Linked DNA regions of Homo sapiens: region 2 is linked to region 1. Evidence: fine-mapped expression QTL. A gene starts in region 1. The other region holds a variant in brackets. All regions are shown on one strand. Distances are from middle to middle.

Region 1 (8,320 bases):
TAGCCACATCATTCTCTAAGAATCTGAAAATCCACATGCAGCATCCTGGCCCAACTAGACAGAGAAATGTTTCTGAATAAGCGGTTACCACAAATTGCAGGGAGAAAGTAAATCCTCAGCTGCACCTGCCCCTTTTAAGTTGAACAAAGCATTCAATGCCTGCAGAAGCTTGAACGTACATCCCCCACCTCCTTACTTAGAGCCACCTCCTTACTTAGAGGTTACAGTTGATAATAAAATATTAAGGAGATATGAATATAATACAATAATATTAGGGGGATGTGAAGCATTGACTGCCCCCAGAAATGGGTGAGAATCCTATTTCACTCCTTTAAGAAGCCTTGCTGTGCACTTTAGGAGGCTGAGGTGAATGGATCACATGAGGTCAGGAGTTTGAGACCAGCCTGGGCAACATGATGAAACCCCATCTCTACTAAAAATACAAAAATTAGCTGAGAGTGGTGGCGCATGCCTGTAATCCCAGCTGCTCGAGAGGCTGAGGCATGAGAATCGCTTGAACCCGGGAGGTGGAGGTTACAGTGAGCCGAGATCATGCCACCTCACTCCAGCCTGGGTGACAGAGTGAGACTCCATCTCAAAAAAAAAAAAAAGAAAAAAAGAAATCTTGCTGTGTGCATCAATGTGGGGATGCAAGGAGCTTCCAGCACAGTTCCCGCATGCATCACTTACATTCAGCTGCAAATCACATGGAAGAAATAACTGGAAGAGAGGAATACAATGAAACAATGCAAGGCAGTTGTCAAAAGTGGTGCCTGACGGGGGGGTCAGTGCTGGTGGAACAGGCATCTAAAGCTTAAGAACAAAGAGGGAGCTGGCTGTGCCCCTAAGTGGCCACAGAAGGCTCTGCCACTCCCAGGGACTTCCATTCTCCCTTTCTTCCTGCACCTTCACTTCCCAGCTCCCAGGTATCTCCCTGATACTCCTTCATACTTTAAACTTAGCTTCCCGCTCTGAGACCTTTTCTTACCTGCAGCAAGTCAAACCCTGTGGGAATAAGCAGGGACAAGAGGATGTTTACTGGTGATTCTCATGACCTCCAATTCCCACCCCTCAAAATGAGTGCTGAATCCTTCCAGCAGGTCCCCTACACCATTCTGGGACTCTTGAGAAATGTGAGCGGCCCTCCCAGTGCATCTTACAGGACTCTGGAAGGAGCAGGAGAGAGGTGCATGGGCCAGGTCAGGGTTCAGGTTCCGGGTTCCAAAGCAGAGGCTCTGAGCAGCAGTCTCCTGTGCTCTCTTCCCTCCTCTCCTCCCTGCCCAGCCTCTTTCTCCGCCCCTTCCAACTCAGACCCTCTTCTCATCGCCTCACCAGAAAGAGGGACAGAGCATCTGGCCAGCCTGCCTTGCCTGAGACTAGGGCTCTTCCTGCCACTGAGTATGAATGTGGCAGCCTGGGCTCCTGGAGAGGAAGCTCCCTGGGGTCTGGAGGCCACTGCTGGTTTGGACAGTTCCAGCTCCAACCTGTCCCTCTGCTCAGATCACAACACTCTGGGGCCTCAGCACAGGAGGCTTTTCCTTATCAGTTTTCTGTCCAAAGGGCGACAAGTGCTTTGGAAACAGTGTCCTGGGAGAACAGCCCAGAAGGGAACAGTGCACCTAATCAGGCTTGCCCCCAGAGAGTTCACCCAGACTGGTATCTAGGACAAAACCCACAACCTCACCCCCCCGCCCCAGGTCTCCTCAGGCAAAGCCCTGAAATAATGTTTCCTTTGCAGGGGACTCGGAATCTGGGGCAGGATGGGAATATGAGGGGACACTCTCCAATGAACTTCCCGATATTCCTGGGGTTCAGATCCGCGTCTGGATGCGTTTCTCGGATTCGGCTCCACACAAGCCTCAGCCCTCCGGACCTTGCACCTCCCCCGCGGATCTCCTCACCCCTCCACCCCCAGGCCCAGATCTTTCCTTGTCGGAATCGCCACGCTTCCTCACTCCTTTACCCCCGCCCCACTCGGCTCTCCTCTTCCTGGTCCTCATCCGGCCAGGCTGCCCCGCCCTGGTAGTTCCCGAGGGTCGTCCGAGGCTCTCGTCCACCAACCGCCCCCGTCTGGAAGAATGCGCCCGCTCGAGCGCACTCTCGGCGGGTGCCAAAGCCTCCCGCCTCAACAGGTGCCCCTGCCTGGCCACGCACAGCTCTGTCACCTGGGGCTCGGACGGAGACGGCGACAGGATCGCCCCCTGCAGGGCGGCTGCGGCTCCGCACGCCCCCGCCCGGGTCCCCAGAGCGCCAAGGGCCCCCGCAGCCCCGCCGCCGCCCCCGCTGTGCCACACTGCCTTTGTTTCCCTGCCCGCTTAGATGTCGCGAGGCTGACTTCATGCAAGGGTATCGCCAAGTTCGGGCGCTGACACTGCCCACCTACCCGTGGTGGCGGACCCTAAGGTTGGGAGTGAGAGACGCGTACAGTGCGAGACCTCTCCTCAACCCAGAGAACTCCGGGGAAGCTGGGTGTCCGCGCCGAAGAAGCGGGTTCAAGTTGACCCGGCTCAGAAGGGGGTTCGAAGCCAGGCGCAGCGCCTAGAGAGCCTTCCCCTACCCACGCCCCCACCCGATGTCCTCTGCCCCCAGAAGGCTGGAGAGGGGCTGCGCACTGCCACCTACGCGCTCGGCTGCGAGTGGTTCCCACCGCCCGCTCGCCGCGCGCTGGGCCCGGCAGCCTTCCGGGGCACACGAGGCTCCCGCAGCCCCCAGACTCCCGGCCCCGGCAGCGCAGAGCCGGGAGAGCCGCCACGTTCCCAGCCGCGCGCGCACGCCGGGCCCACCAAACTTGCAGCACTTTCTCCCAGCCCCCACCCTCTGTCACCCTCCCTTAGTCGGTGCGCCCCAGCCCCGCCGCCCGGCAGAGGTTGCCATAACAACGGGCAGGAATGCTCCAACATATACAAAGCCGGCCCGGCGCAGCGGGCACTCAGCCCTGGCCGGGCCCCGCGCCCTCGGCCGCCGCGCAGGGTCTGGACGCGCGCCGCGGCTCCCTAGCCGGCCGGCCGACGCTCGGGGCGTACTCACAATGAGCGGGATGGTGCGGTCCTCGCGGAGCTGCTCCGACCTCCTGCCTGCCCTCTGCGCGCCCCGGCCGCCGGAGGATGCTGCGTGGGCTCGGTTGTCCTGCCATAAGTAGTAGAAAGTGCCCAGGATCCAGGCTACGGTCAGGATGGCGATGGCATTGGCGCGGATCTTCCTCATGGTGGGCAGACGGGCGCCCCAGGTGGGGGACTGGGCCGGCGTGCTCTCGGGGCCGGGGCGGGGGCGCTCGCAGCCCCAGCTGTTTGTTTTCGCTCGCGCCTAGCTGCTCAGTCCTGCAGAGCAGAAAAAGGAGAGAGGTGGGGGGGCGGGGGGGTGATAGGGAGAGACAGGATCGCGGAGCGATCCTCACGGTCCTAATGCCCTTCAGCCCCGAGCGCGCGCGTCCCCCGGGCGCCCATTCATTCGTGCGCAGGGCCGGCCCCGCGCTCCAGCCGCCGCCGGCTGACCCACCAGGCCACTGCGCACTGGGAGAGAAGCGCGCCGAGTGGGAAGCGGCGCGGGCCTTCCTCCCGCGCCCGGGAACCCGGCGAGACAGACGCCCGCGGCGGAATGGCGACTGGCCAAAGCCAGCCTCGGCTCCCACCGCTAGGTGACCGAACGCCCGGCAGCTGCCCCCGCGCGGCCCTGGTCGGTCCTGCCGACCCACACCCACCCCCGGACCGAGCGGCCTTGAGTCACCGACTGGAGACGCGCGACCCCCGACCTGGGCCCGCGCCGCGAGCTGCAGTTCCGGGCTGCGCTCTGGCGCGGGATTCAAGGTGTGTTCGGCGAGTCCTTGTGTAGGGGCGGCTGGGCGGGGGAGAGTCCTGAGTTTGTACTGGAATCTGCAGCTGAGATTAGCCAGACCGGGCCCGCCCAGAGGAGGGATTGGAAGCTGGTGCACTTGACATTCGAAGAGCGCGAAGGGGAAACGACGCTGCCTCACACCCAGTGCTAGGAGAGTGCGGGTACGGCCCTTCCACATTTTTCGCTGGCCTGGGGCTCCCAGATTTCACGATGCTTCCCTCTATCCCGCCTCATTGACCCCTGGACAACCCTGAAATATCATCGTCAGCATTATTTCATCGGAAAGAAGGGCAGCAAGAGAGGCCGGATGATTCTCCCAAGGCCACACAGCTAATTAGTGGGCAGAGCCCAGTCTAGAAGCCATCTCACCATCTGACACCTTTCGACAAAGTGCAAAACGCGGTGGTGAGAGACGAGGACACAGACATTAAGATTCCGCTCCAGCCCTAGAGGCACTGAGAATCAGAACGTGAACTACTCTTCACTCCAGGCAGAAAGCAAGAGGCTTGGATGAGTTTTAGGAAACCAGCACAGTGTCGGGCACAGAGCGCTCAATGAATAGATGTGTAACAACAAAGTAGGGATCCAACAGAGGAAGAAATAATTTATTGTAAGGTGGCCTTTGGGAAAGCTCTCAGAAAGGTGGATGAATCACTTAAGAGGTAAGGAAGGGGGAGGTGAGGACAGGGGAGAGACTGCAGAAATAGGCCTTGCAAAAATCCAGAGGATGGAAGAGCTTGATGTGTTCAAGAGAGAGAGCTGCCAGGCGTTGCAGGGGGCCTAGGATTTGATAGGAGTTGAGGTTGGCCAGGCTGGGTGAGTCTGAACTCAGGAGGTCCTTGAATGCCGGGGCAGAGTTGTTGAGGAGTCTGCTTCCTGCTGGCACTGCTGGACACCATGGCTACTCCGAAGACCCACATAGGGTCCAGCCTCTAAATGAAGCCATCTGGGGAATCAGGCAAACTGAAGTCACAGCATCATGCCCCCCCACAAGCATCCCATGAGCACCACCCTGACAGATAGAAGTAAAATCAGGTGGCTTTTCTCCATTTCTCCAGCACTCGAGACTGAACCGCACATATAATAGATGCTCAATACATTTCTGTTGAGGTGAAGAAACCCTAGTTGGGTTTTTGCTGAGGAAAACCCAGGGTCATTACTGCAATACGATATCCTCACTCAGAAGACTAATTACGATGACACTTAGACAAGTCCAAAAGTGACCCACGCAGGAATGGGACCTAGAAAGAAGAGAATGCACAAAGAGGGCCTCACAAAGGGTCTACACAAGTAGCAGGGAATTTCAGGCATAAGGTGTGGCAGTCACAACAGGGGCAGGAGTCTGGAGACGCCAGATGCTCTCCCAGGTCTCTCTCCCCTGGGGAGTTTAATAAGACTGCGCCAGGGGCCAGGGCTTGTTTGCATAGATGGAGAAAACCACTGCCAAACCTCCATCTGGTTTCCGCAGGAATCATGGGGCAGATCCAGCGGTGCCATTTGTGGGAGGCCAGGAAAGACCTTGCTCCTTGGGAATCAGGCTCCACAGGCCTCTCAGGTCAACCAAGAAAATGTAAGGGAACTACCCTCCTGGTGCCCCCATTTTCACACATCTCTCAGGTGAGCCAGGTGAAAACTTGGGGAGTAGCCCTGTTGTCATAGGCTGCTCCCCTCATCCCAGCCTGGTCTGTGCATCTCTAGTTGCCTTTGGATGTGGGATTCGAAGACATCACATCACCTATCACCTCCTGGTAAAAGGCTCCAAACTCACCCCTCGGCACGGGGATGAAGCTGGACCATGCTGACTGAAACCAGACAGTTGGGGCTTCTGGTGACTCCAAAAGGAAGGCTCCATGGGGGGAAGGAGGGAGGGGTGGGATGGGCTGGAATGTGGCAGGGTTTCTCACATCTCACCACTTACTGCCCAGGGCTCAGTGGTGAGGATGCTATATATCTGCCCCAAATGGTCACTCCTGGTAGTTCTGTCCCTGAGAGAAGGTTTGCTTGGCCCCCACCACCAGAAAGACTGCACAGAAGTGAAGCGTAGCCTCTCTAGATGACTTCACCACAGTTGTTCCTTAGTTGGGCACTTCCCTGGGGGATGATGGGGGTGGGGTGGGGGTAAGACAGCAAGTAATTGCCATGCTCATTTGACTGACAGGAATTCCACATAGACAGAGGTGGAGTAATGTGCCTGAAGCCATAGGCACTCTGGCAGAGCTAAAGACCAGGAATTGCCACCTTGGCTACAGTCTGTGGTCTTCGTTTCAGATTGTAATCCCAAGTGGGTGCAGAACTGGCCCTCCCTGGGATAGGTTTCAATGCTCAGAAATGACAATGAGTGTTGTTTCCTCTCTGGTACTAGGAATGGACTCCAGCAGCATCACAGAATCAAAGCAACACCTAAGGAATTCACTGTTTCTTCACATACTTTGAACTGTGAAAACAAGAGTCATCATAATAGCTGCAGTTTACTCAGTACCTACCAGGTACTGTCACCTATACTGTCTCTAAAGCCCCTACAACCCTGAGCTAAGGATGATCATATCCCCAACTGCAGATGATGACACTGAAGCTCAACGGCTACTCAACTTGCCTGGAATCCTACAGCAAGTAAGTGGTGAAGCTCGGTTTAAGTCCTGTGCCATTTTCAACGCTTGTGTCTGGGTACGAGTACAGGGCTTCTGAGGCCACTGGGAAATCTGCAGTGTGGTCTGAATTTCTGTATGCAGGAGTCTCACTTTCCCTGCCCACAGTTCTCCGTTTTCTCATCCATAAAAGGAGGGATATAAGATGTCCTGGGGTGGGGGGGTCTCACCAACTGTGCCACTTTGAACTTGCATTTCCTCCTTTTCAGGATTTCTCTTAGGCACAGTTCATATTGTTTTAAAGCTGTCAAAGCCAGCACTCAGGGTAAGCTGGGCAAAGTTCCACATGCCCCTGGGGCTCCCAGATGCCCCAGGGAGCTCTCTGCCTCTGGGCCTTTGGTGTGGGGGTTGTGGAGGAGTGGATAACCGAGGGGGAAAGGGTACAGCTCAGTGTAAGGCCCTGGCTCTGGAATTGGACAACCTGAACTTGAATGCTGATCCTGTCACAAATTAAGAGAGTGGTTTGGGCAAATTCTTAACCTCAGTTTCCTCAACTGCAAAATGGGGCACTGACAGCTCTTACCTCACAACTTTGTTGGGAAAGATAGGATGAAATAAAGTCATGTAAAATCCAGTGCCTCATAAGCACCCCCCAGGGGCTCTCTCCTGCAGGCTGTTGCTGGCTGCTGGAGGTGAAAGGGGCCTCCTGAAAGGGACTGCTCACTATTGCTGCCAAGAACAGACCTGATGCCAGCCTCTTTGGCCATGGCTAATGTCCAGCAGTCATAGACTGTCCTGCCCGTGGGTGGGTGGCTGCATCTTCCAGAGCCTCTGCTGAGCAGGCTGGAGGCAAGGCAGGGGAGAGGCACAGAGCAGGGCCCCAGCCTCCCATTTGAGGTGCTGGGCCAGCTCAGAAGCTCTTGCTCTGTCCACAGCAGCAGGGCCCAGAAGGTAGGGAAGGGACCTGATTGGATACCCTTACTGGCCCATGTCTGCTCTAAGCAGGAAAGAAGGCAGGGATGGTGGACAGAATGTATGTTACCAAGCAACAGGCAATGTGCTGATACACGATCTCAGAATACTCATAACGACCCTGTGAGGAAGGCGCAATCATCCCCCTTCCACAGGGGAGGAGACTGATGCCCACGGAGGTGCCAGCATAAAGTGGAGCATGCGCTGCCCACTGCCAGCTGAGCGCACTCAATGCACCAATCGTCTCTAAGGAAAAGATATTTATAAGGTAGTTTCTATAAACCATTATAGATGGAGGAAAGGACTTAGCTCTTTGAAAGGAACTTGGCAGTTTTCTTATTGTCAATCCTCCTCCTCCTACTTGTCTGATAACCCTGGTTTCTTACTTATTAGTTTCTGCCACTGGAGTAAAAATTCCAAGAGGACTGGGGTTCTTGTATATTTTCCTTACCACTGTTTCCCCGGTGCCTATAGTAGTGGCAAATAGTACATGCTTGTTAGTGTGTAGTATTTGTTTTTTTGTTTGTTTGTTTGTCTGAAGCCCTTGGAATGCGATCGCATAGTTATTTGTTGATGGAAGGAAGGGAGAGGAAGAGGGAAGGAGGAGAAAAGGCAGTGTAGCTCTATGAAAAAATGCACTTCTCTCTTAAGCCAAGCACTTGAGAAATGAGTACAGGACTAGAGCACAGACAAAGGGGGTGATTCGTTTAGGGTCAGGGCGGGCCAGTGTAGGGAGTCCCCTGCCAGTGCTTCCTCCCCAAGTCATGGAGCCAGGGCCAAACCTTCCTGCCCCAGGATGAGGGGGGAGAGAAAGTCCTTTGTGGTCCCATGAGAAGTAGCAGAAGGAATGACCCCAATTCTGGTGGACAACTGCAAGAACCATAAATGTTACCAGGGATCATGAAATAACCCAGGTGTTGCATTTGGGAATA
Region 2 (8,320 bases), 93 kb before region 1:
TCTGGAGCCTCAGTCCAGGTCGGCTACTCAGACAGCCCAGCTGCAAGCCCAGGAGAGTAGGCCCTCCCCTGATCCATCTCCAGGTCTTTCCTAAGTGCCTGGCAGTGAAGACCTCTTCCCATTAGAGAAGCTGGCTGGGTTGCCCCCTCCTTCTGGAGGAGCACTGACTCAGACCATCACAGGGACACACAAATACCAAACACACTGAGAACATTGTTGGCAATGAAATTACAGACGTTATAAATGCCAGCCTTTCCCTTCCAGGTTTCCTTTCCTGTTCCCTGGTGGGAGAAGGACCACACCCCATGCAGTGCTGGGAGACATCCCCCGCAGGCCTTGGGGTGCTGGAACCCTGGGACGACAGTCATATTGTCCAGGTTATTTCTCCCAACTGCAGATGGAGACAGCCTTCCTGAGGGGCCAGGGGGAACAGCCCTTGTAAAAACTGAAGCCAAGTCACAGAGGCCCAGGGATCCTCAGGAACAGCTCCCTGCTGTACAAATGGGAGTCTGGCCCTGGTGCAGAAGTCCCTTCTGCTGCCCTGCCCATAGGCTTTCGGGGGACTCTCCTGCCAGTGACGTAACTGTTAATACCCAGCCTGGGGCTTTTGCTGATTCCTCCAGGGCCTGGCTAAAGGCTGACAGCCTTATCTCCTAGGGAAAAAACTGGGTGGCACAGAAAATGGGCTTTGGGAGAGGTAGGTTTGGAGGAGAGCAAGCAAGAGGAGAGAGCCTGACTCAGGAGAAGCAAGCACCAGAGCCCTCCAAGGCTGAGGGTGAAAATAGATGGAGAGTGGAAATGGGGCTCAGCGCGCCAGGAGGGAGCCCTGAGTAGGCGGTGGGTGGTGGGCTGTGCTCCCTGAGAGGACGGAGGGGTGGATGGGGGAATGGAGGCTGCAGCCAAGGTCTTTTACAGTGACTTGCTCCTAAGCCCAGACCAAGCTGGACATTGTAGCCAAGGTGTATTCTCTGCAGCCAGCTAGGGCTTTGCTCCAGGCTCCTCAGGCCCAGGGGTCAGAAGTTCTGGGTAACTCCAGATCAGCAGCCCCACGGCAAAGTGGGGCTGAGGGCAGAAATGGTTGCGTCCAGGAGAGGCTAGTGGTGTGCTGGCCTGCCAGCTGCAGTTCATATGTATGTTGAAGCAGCGTTTATTTTTACCTGGGTAGGTTCAGCTTCTGATCACAGACATGGTGGGGGTTTTCCATTGGTTTCCATGGGAACATTAGGCAGAGCATCTGCTACCCAATCAAGCAAAGCTGGTCTGGTAAGACTCTTTTCAGAATTATTTTGCTGTTTTTACCCAGGAAGTATGTCCTGCCTGAATTTGTACCACTGCCTTCTTGTGTGGTAGAGCAGGGGAGGGCAGCTCCGAGGGGACAGGCCTGGCTCACAGGGAAGGAGAGAGGGCTGGCTAAAGGCAAGCACGGCGGCAGGGCAATACCTATTTGGAGAAGCAATTTGCTTTCCATTTCTAAGCCCCAAGTAGAATCCCATAATGAGGCCACAGGAGCCTGGGCTCCACCTGACCTGTGCTGATTCCTGGTTTTGGTCCAAGGCCTGCCCTTGCAGTAGGGCCACCTGTTGGCCCCCACCAGAGCAGTCAGGAGTTCCTGGGGCACCACAGGGCATGGAGGCCGACGAGCAAGCTACCAGGTGCAGGACAGGGCTAGACTTGAGCATGTTCAGTTTCACTTTTACAGAAAGGAGGCCCGGACTTTCCCCACGAGGCGGGGGAGGGTGTGCTGAAGGGCTAGGCCTGGAGGCAGAAAGGAAGGCGCTGGTGCATGTGGACATGTAAGAAGTGGTTTTATTCCAGGTGTGTGTTTCATAAAGACGAGGTCCTCAAGGACAGCTAGTGGCACATGCTTTGGTCAAGAAGAGGAAAAGCAAAAACAGAACAGGGCTGCGTTGCCACAAAGGACCGGCTGATAAGTGCAGAGCCTGATCTGACCACAGCAAAGGACAGAGAGACCCTCTTGAAGGCCCTCTGGTCAGCAGTCCTCTTACATTCAACAGGCGCAGCCCCGGCTCCCCAGCCCCAAAGGTCCATGCCCGAGTGTGGCCCAGGCCTTCTAGTCCATCCTCTGGGGAGAGGCCTTTGCCCTGGGCCCAGTTCTGTCCTAAGCTGTGGCAGGAGGCTTCCCAGATGAACAGGGGATCTGAGGCTGCACCTGGCTGCGGAAGAAACATCACGACAGAGGACAGGCAAAGCATGGCCCTGGGAGCGAAGGGGCCTGCGCTGGCAAGTCCAGAGGGGTGCACTTGGGCACGGGAGTGCTGCCGAGAGGACGCTGGTGAGAGTCAGGAGGCGAAACTGCTGGAGAGCCCTCCAGAGCAGGTGCTGCGGACCACAGACACTTGGCTGCTGACCCCAAGGGCCGTGTGGAGGGAGCAGGCGATGGCAGTTTGAGCACGCCAGGGAGGAAGATTAGGGGGTGGCAGCTTGGGCAGACAGTGGCTTCAATCCAGAGCAGAGGTTCAGGCCCTTTGGGGATCAGGGACCTCTTTTAGAAGCCATGGACTTTTTCCCCAGGAAAATGCATGTATGCACACACATGCAGTATTTTAGGGACAATTTCAAGAGATTCCTAGACCCTCTAGAATCCATGAACTCTATGGGTATGTGGATCCTTGGCCTATGAAAGACAGGGGGCTCCTGTGGTAGGTATATCTGCCCCAGGCTGGTCTGCTTTGTAGGGGAGACCCCCAGGGTCCTGGTACCAACAGTCATTTGCCCAAGAGCCAGTGGGGTGAGGAAGCAGGGTGTGGGGATAGCAGGAGCAGTTCCAAGACAAGGCCGTGGGGTAGATGTGTGGATGTGTTCTCAGCGGCTGTGAAAAGGAACTGGGAGTTCTCTTCACAAACAGGAGCCACAGCCAGCCTCCCAGCACAGTGCAATAGCTGACCCTTCAAGAAAATCCCTCCTGTAGTAGGGAGGGGAATAAGGGTGAGGTTGAGCCCTAATGACTTAGGGGCTCCTGTAGCGGGGAGGGGAATAAGGGTGAGGTTGAACCCTAATGACTTAGGGGCTGTTCTTGGTCCAGAAGGGAAGTTCCCTTCTTTCCAACCACCCATGATGCTGTATTGACAGAGGCAAAAACCTTTGAGAAAGCAGGAGTCAAAAATGACAAATGAGGCTGGGACTACTCAGGGATGTGTGTGGCTACCCGTCCTTTCAGTGGGTCCTGGCGGCAGGGACAGGGCACTAGCTGTTCATTAATGCCCGAGAGAGAGGTCTCAGCCTGACACATGGCCAAATAGAAGTGGAGTCTGTTTAATAAACTACGCCCGAATCTTCCCCTAAAGATCCCTCTGCAGCCTCTTGCTAAGAATGTGGGCACCCACAGGCACAGGACCGGAAGAGGCAGCGTCGGGCTCAGACCCTGGGGCTGGTAAAGTGTGGAAGGGACTGTGTCCTGGGTAAGAGACCTTGTTCTTTTGGTGCTTTGCTGCTCTTCTATCCATGTTCATTTGCAAATTACCCATCCTTTGCTGCCAAGACACCATCCGTCCCCACCCAACCCAGTGCCACCCTGGGCTTGGCATCTCTGACAGGTCACCGGGCTTCTCACCTCCTTCCTGTTCTTCAGCTACCCCTGCAGGCTGCCCCTCTCCCCTTCCCTCTTCCCAGCCTTCAGCCTCTCCATCCATGCTGCCCAATTTCCCCTGGCCCTGCCTGCCTGCACAGCTGGGCCTCATGACCCAAAAGACCCCTGTGTGGGCTTCTGTCCTTGCTTTCTCCGGGCAACAAGGGAGAGACCACACACTATTGTCCCAGCCCCAAGAAGCGCCAAGGGAGAGGACAAAGGGCCAGGGGCACCTACTCAGTCTCTACCCAGCAACAGTCCAGCACCCTGACCATCTCCTCTCC[C/T]GGGGCAAGGCCAGGACAGCACTGAGGGCATCGGGGCGTGCCCGCCTGCGCCCTCCTAGAACAAGCTTTGGAGAACGTGTGTCATGGTGGGTATTTGCTGATGGTCCTGGCAGAAATGTGAGGAGATGGGAACAGCCCACTTTGCACTCCCCCACCCTAACCCCCTTCCGGTCCCGAAGTCTCATGCAAAAGGTACAGGAGGCCCCAGGGCTACCGTCATGTGTGTGGCAACAGCTGCCACTGCTGGGCCTGGGCGTCAGCCTGACACTTGCTGGTCACCAGCTGGGCAGGCTTTGTCTCCAGGCAGAGGCCACTGACTGAATGCTGGATGAAAGATCCTTTTCTCCTCCATTTCTAGGAGGAACAGAGATGGGTTAGAAGAGGAAGGAGAAAACAATGATTTAAAAAAATAATGTTGTACTTTCATTCCACATGTATGCACACAGCCCTTGTATATAACTAGGACACATCCCCCTCCTCCTTTCTTTTTAGGCATGACCTTGTTCTTACAGTGGTGCTACCACAGCTCACTGCAGCCTCGAACTCCTGAGTTCAAGCAATCCTCTTGCCTCAGCCTCTGAGTAGCTAGGACTACACCTGCATGCCACCACGCCCAGCTAATTTTTAAATTTTTTGCAGAGACTGGGTCTTGCTATGTTGCCCAGGCTGGTCTAGCTAGAACGTCTCACCTCAAGTGATCCACCTGTCTTGGCCTTCCAAAGCACTGGGATTACAGGCATGAGCTACCATGCCCAGTCATGCCCCTCATTTAAATCAGGCTGTGTGTTCCTATGTAAGAGGCTGCCCCCATCCTGCCTCTAACACCAGCTTTAAGCCCTGCCCTTCCCAGCAGGGCTCTTGCTTTTCTGTAGTTTGCAGAAGTTCCTGTCCAGATCAGAGGAGGAGGCAAAGCAGAAGTCCCCTGTGTTTATTTACAATTTAGCTTGGTTGCCACGTGCAAATCTGCATTTCCAGCTTCTATGTAGTTATTGGACCCAGTTTCTTACATGGCATCAGTTGCTGGGGCTGAGGATTTGCCCTCTGCCTTAGATGGGGCTCTTGTTCTGCAGGTCACCATAGTTCCTGCCTGGTCCCGACTTTTCTCCTATTGGGGTTTTCCCACCAGCTCCCTGTAGGCACTTGAGCTTGTCAGTCCTGGCCTAGGTAAATCTTTTATTTCTGTAAACAAGATTTATTCTTCCTAAGCTTCTGACCTGTGAGGCCAGTAATCTACACCCCCTAGTGGGAAGCTGCCTTCTTTGTAGGGATGAAGTGTGGGGCCAGCAGGGTGGTGGGAGACTGGAGGTCTCGCATCACAGAGTCATGCAGGGGCTCCTGGTCAGTGCCTTCACCTCCTGGTGCCTCCCCGACCCCGGGTTTGACAAGGGGGAGAAGAGTTGCTCCTGTAGAACATTACGGAAGTGCCTGGGTGGAGGATGGAGTGTTGCTTGGAACATTTATGAGAAGGGATGAGAGGCAGAGACCCAGGTTTCAAGGCTCAGGGAAGAATAATAGTAAGATAGGTCTAGTTTGGGTTTCTCTCCTATTTGCCTCCCATTGCAACCACCTCCCCTCTTCCATCTTCTCTCATTCACCGTGTCTTCGATTAGAGGCAGGAGTGCTTGTGACCATGTGGAGGAAGCCCAGAGGGCTCTGAGGGCAGTTGGTGGACAGGGAGCAGCTGAGGGGAGAGAGATGAGCCCACCCAGCTGCAGGGATAGGGCTAGGGCTGCGGGGGGATGTGCACACAGGGTGGAAGGCAGGGGCGGAGCCTGGGCTCCCAGTGGGAATGCAAGGACGTGATGGGTAGGGCTGAGACCCAGCCTCTCTGGGCCCACATGGCCCCCGCAGAGAGCCTAAAGGTCAAGGGCCTTTGGATCCCCCCTCCTGTTTCTTCATGCTCTTCTAGTCCTTGACATTTACCTCATGTAGGCCAAACCTCCAGCAATGCCCAGCTGGAGAGAGTATGGCCATCCTCACCCCAGGGAGTCGTGGTGCTTGGAGCTACCTCAGCATCTAGCCTTCTGTAATATAGTGTCTTACTCCCTTCTTTCTCTTCCACTAAAGTGCAAATTCCCTGGGGGTCAAGGACCATGTCCGTTCATCCTTGTGGCCAACATGATCTGTACATTCTCTGGCACAAGGTAGGCACCCAGTGACATTTTGTTTGTTTGAGACTGAGTCTCGCTCTGTCACCCAGGCAGGAGTGCAGTGACACGATCTCGGCTCACTGCTACCTCTGCCTCCCGGGTTCAAGCGATTCTCCTGTCTCAGCCTCCTGAGTAGCTGGGATTACAGACGCGCGCCACCACGCCCGGCTAATTTTTGTGTTTTTAGTAGAGACGGGGTTTCACCATTTTGGTCAGGCTGGTCTCGAACTCCTGACCTCATGATCCACCCATCTCAGCCTCCCAAAGTGCTGGGATTACAGGCATGAGCCACTGCACCCAGCCGTCATTTTGTTTTAAGATGAACGAATGACTGAATCACCCAATCATTAGGAAGTGCTCCCCAAACAGCGGGATTCTCACTTCTTATCAGTGCTATTAGGCACAATCTCAGGGCTTCTTGACTCTCCAGGCCACTCAATTCTGGGCTTGTCTGAGAAACAATGTCACATCACCCACTGTCCCATCTCCACATCTTGGTTCTTGCGGATTCCTTGTGAGGTAAGCAGGGGAGGGAGCCCCTTATTTTATAAGTGAGGAGACTGAGTGAAGGGAGGGGGAGGGAAGACTGAGCTGGGGCCTGCTGACTCCATCACACCAGGTCTGAGGCACAGGAGCCTCTCGGATACAGGAAACCCAGCTAGCCTTGGAAATAGGACCAGCAGGGGACCAAGAAGGACGGCCCGGATTCCAGAAGGCATTGGCAGTGGGATAGCTGGCTCATCCTGTCCTCCTGGGAGAAGAGGGGCACAGGCACCCAGAATGCCATCGGGAGCCTGGCAGGACTTGCAGGGGCAGAATGAATGGGGCCAAGGAGATACCTACACACCCCGTAGGCTGGGTCAGCACAAAGGGGGAAATGTGTGATTCAGCCCCAGAGGGGCAATTGAGTGGAGGCTTTGCTCGGAGATAATTCCTCAGTGGGAGGGGGTGGGCGTGGGCTCAAGGATTTGCCCTCAGAGAGGTGGGTGCTCTAGGTGCAGGAGACACTGCACCAGCCCCACTGCAGGGCAGGGCCGAGGGTGGGCTGCATCCCCCCACCATCCAAAAGCGCTTAAAGTGTCCCACAGGTCCAGCAAGTGGGCTGGGCACACAGATCCCTCAGACACACACAGGCCGGAGGGAGAGGCTGTGGCTGCTTTCCAGAATGGCACAGCAAACTGCTGTTCATCCTTTAAAAAACGTGCTGACCCAAGCAAAGAAAAAGGGGTAGGAGGAAAACCATGCAGGCCAAATCAGAGACCCAGGCACCCTCCTCACTGCTTGCACCGACTGAGGCAGGCTAGCCAGTGGCAGGCACAGGGAGGGCTTCTGAGGAGGGTGAGCAGGGGAAGTGCTGGAGCAGCCTCTGGGCCTTGGGTCCCATTCCCTGGGTGGTGAGGGAGCCCTCCAAGACAGGAAGGGAGTAGCACAGAAGAGAGCTGGCTGGATTCTGGAAATCCACTGTCACTGGTTGCTGTGTACCCTGAGCAAGTGACTCCACCTCTCTGTGCATCACTTTCTTCCTTGACCCTGACCTGTCTCCCAGGATTAGTGGTGACAGTGTGGGTGAGAGTGTCGGATCAATGGAAAAAGCAGTGCTCACGTGAGGCTGGTCATGCCAGCTTGGACATCACTGTGTCTGGAGCTCAGTTTCCCTAGTCTGCCAACAGTCAAGAAATACTTATTGAACATCTACTATGTGCTGGGTTAAGACTGTGGGCCTAGAAGTCACTGACCTGGGTTTGAATCCCAGCTCCACCCCTTCTCAGCTGTGTGATCTGACATATATTCTTTAGATTCAGCGAGCCTCAGCTTACTCACTTATAAAATGGAGGTAGTACTAGAACCCACGTCACTGGGTGGCTGGGAGGATTAGATGAGATGATCTATTTCAAACTTCTAGCACAGACTGTCAGTAAAAGCTAACACTTATTTGAACTGTGGTGGTTGTCAGGAGCTAGGGATACAGTGTTAACAAGACAAGTGGTCCCTGCCTTCATGGAGCTCACAGCCTGGCAGGATGGCATTAAACAAATAATTACCCAAAGAAGTATTTCCTCATGGGCAGAATAATTGGCTTGACCTAGATGTAGACTTTGCTCCCCCTCCCCACAGATCCTCGCTCTGAAGGGCTTATTTGAGTCAATCAGGGGCTCTCCTGCCAAGGTCTGCCACCCTGAGGCATGGCCCCTCGGGCTGCTGGGCCTCTGGGCCAGAGGCAAGGAGACTCACCTGCTTGCCTTCTCTAGGGTTGCACATCTGCAGTATGACTGGGGATCCAGGGGAGGACATTAAGGTGG

What was found.
Region 2: its variant is fine-mapped to the expression of GALNT16 in cerebellar hemisphere (GTEx, PIP above 0.99). The same link has a PIP of 0.9 or more in cerebellum.

Annotation. Positions count from the first base shown.
Region 1 is chr14:69,255,175-69,263,494 of GRCh38, reverse strand. GALNT16 (polypeptide N-acetylgalactosaminyltransferase 16) reads right to left here and starts at 3,337. Exons shown (of 15, transcript NM_001168368.2): 1 at 3,028-3,337. The coding sequence starts at 3,204. It overlaps GALNT16-AS1 (GALNT16 and EXD2 antisense RNA 1), which reads left to right and starts at 2,968. Exons shown (of 4, transcript NR_184249.1): 1 at 2,968-3,205; 2 at 6,194-6,441. RefSeq lists a silencer at 2,232-2,291.
Region 2 is chr14:69,347,935-69,356,254 of GRCh38, reverse strand. GALNT16 (polypeptide N-acetylgalactosaminyltransferase 16) reads right to left here. Exons shown (of 15, transcript NM_001168368.2): 14 at 8,253-8,320; 15 at 1,789-4,224. The coding sequence ends at 4,087. Among named protein-coding and RNA genes, the nearest start is that of ERH, 46 kb to the left of the region's middle. RefSeq lists enhancers at 1,412-1,911, 1,942-2,041, 7,054-7,554. The variant C/T (reference allele first, on the strand shown) is at 3,871.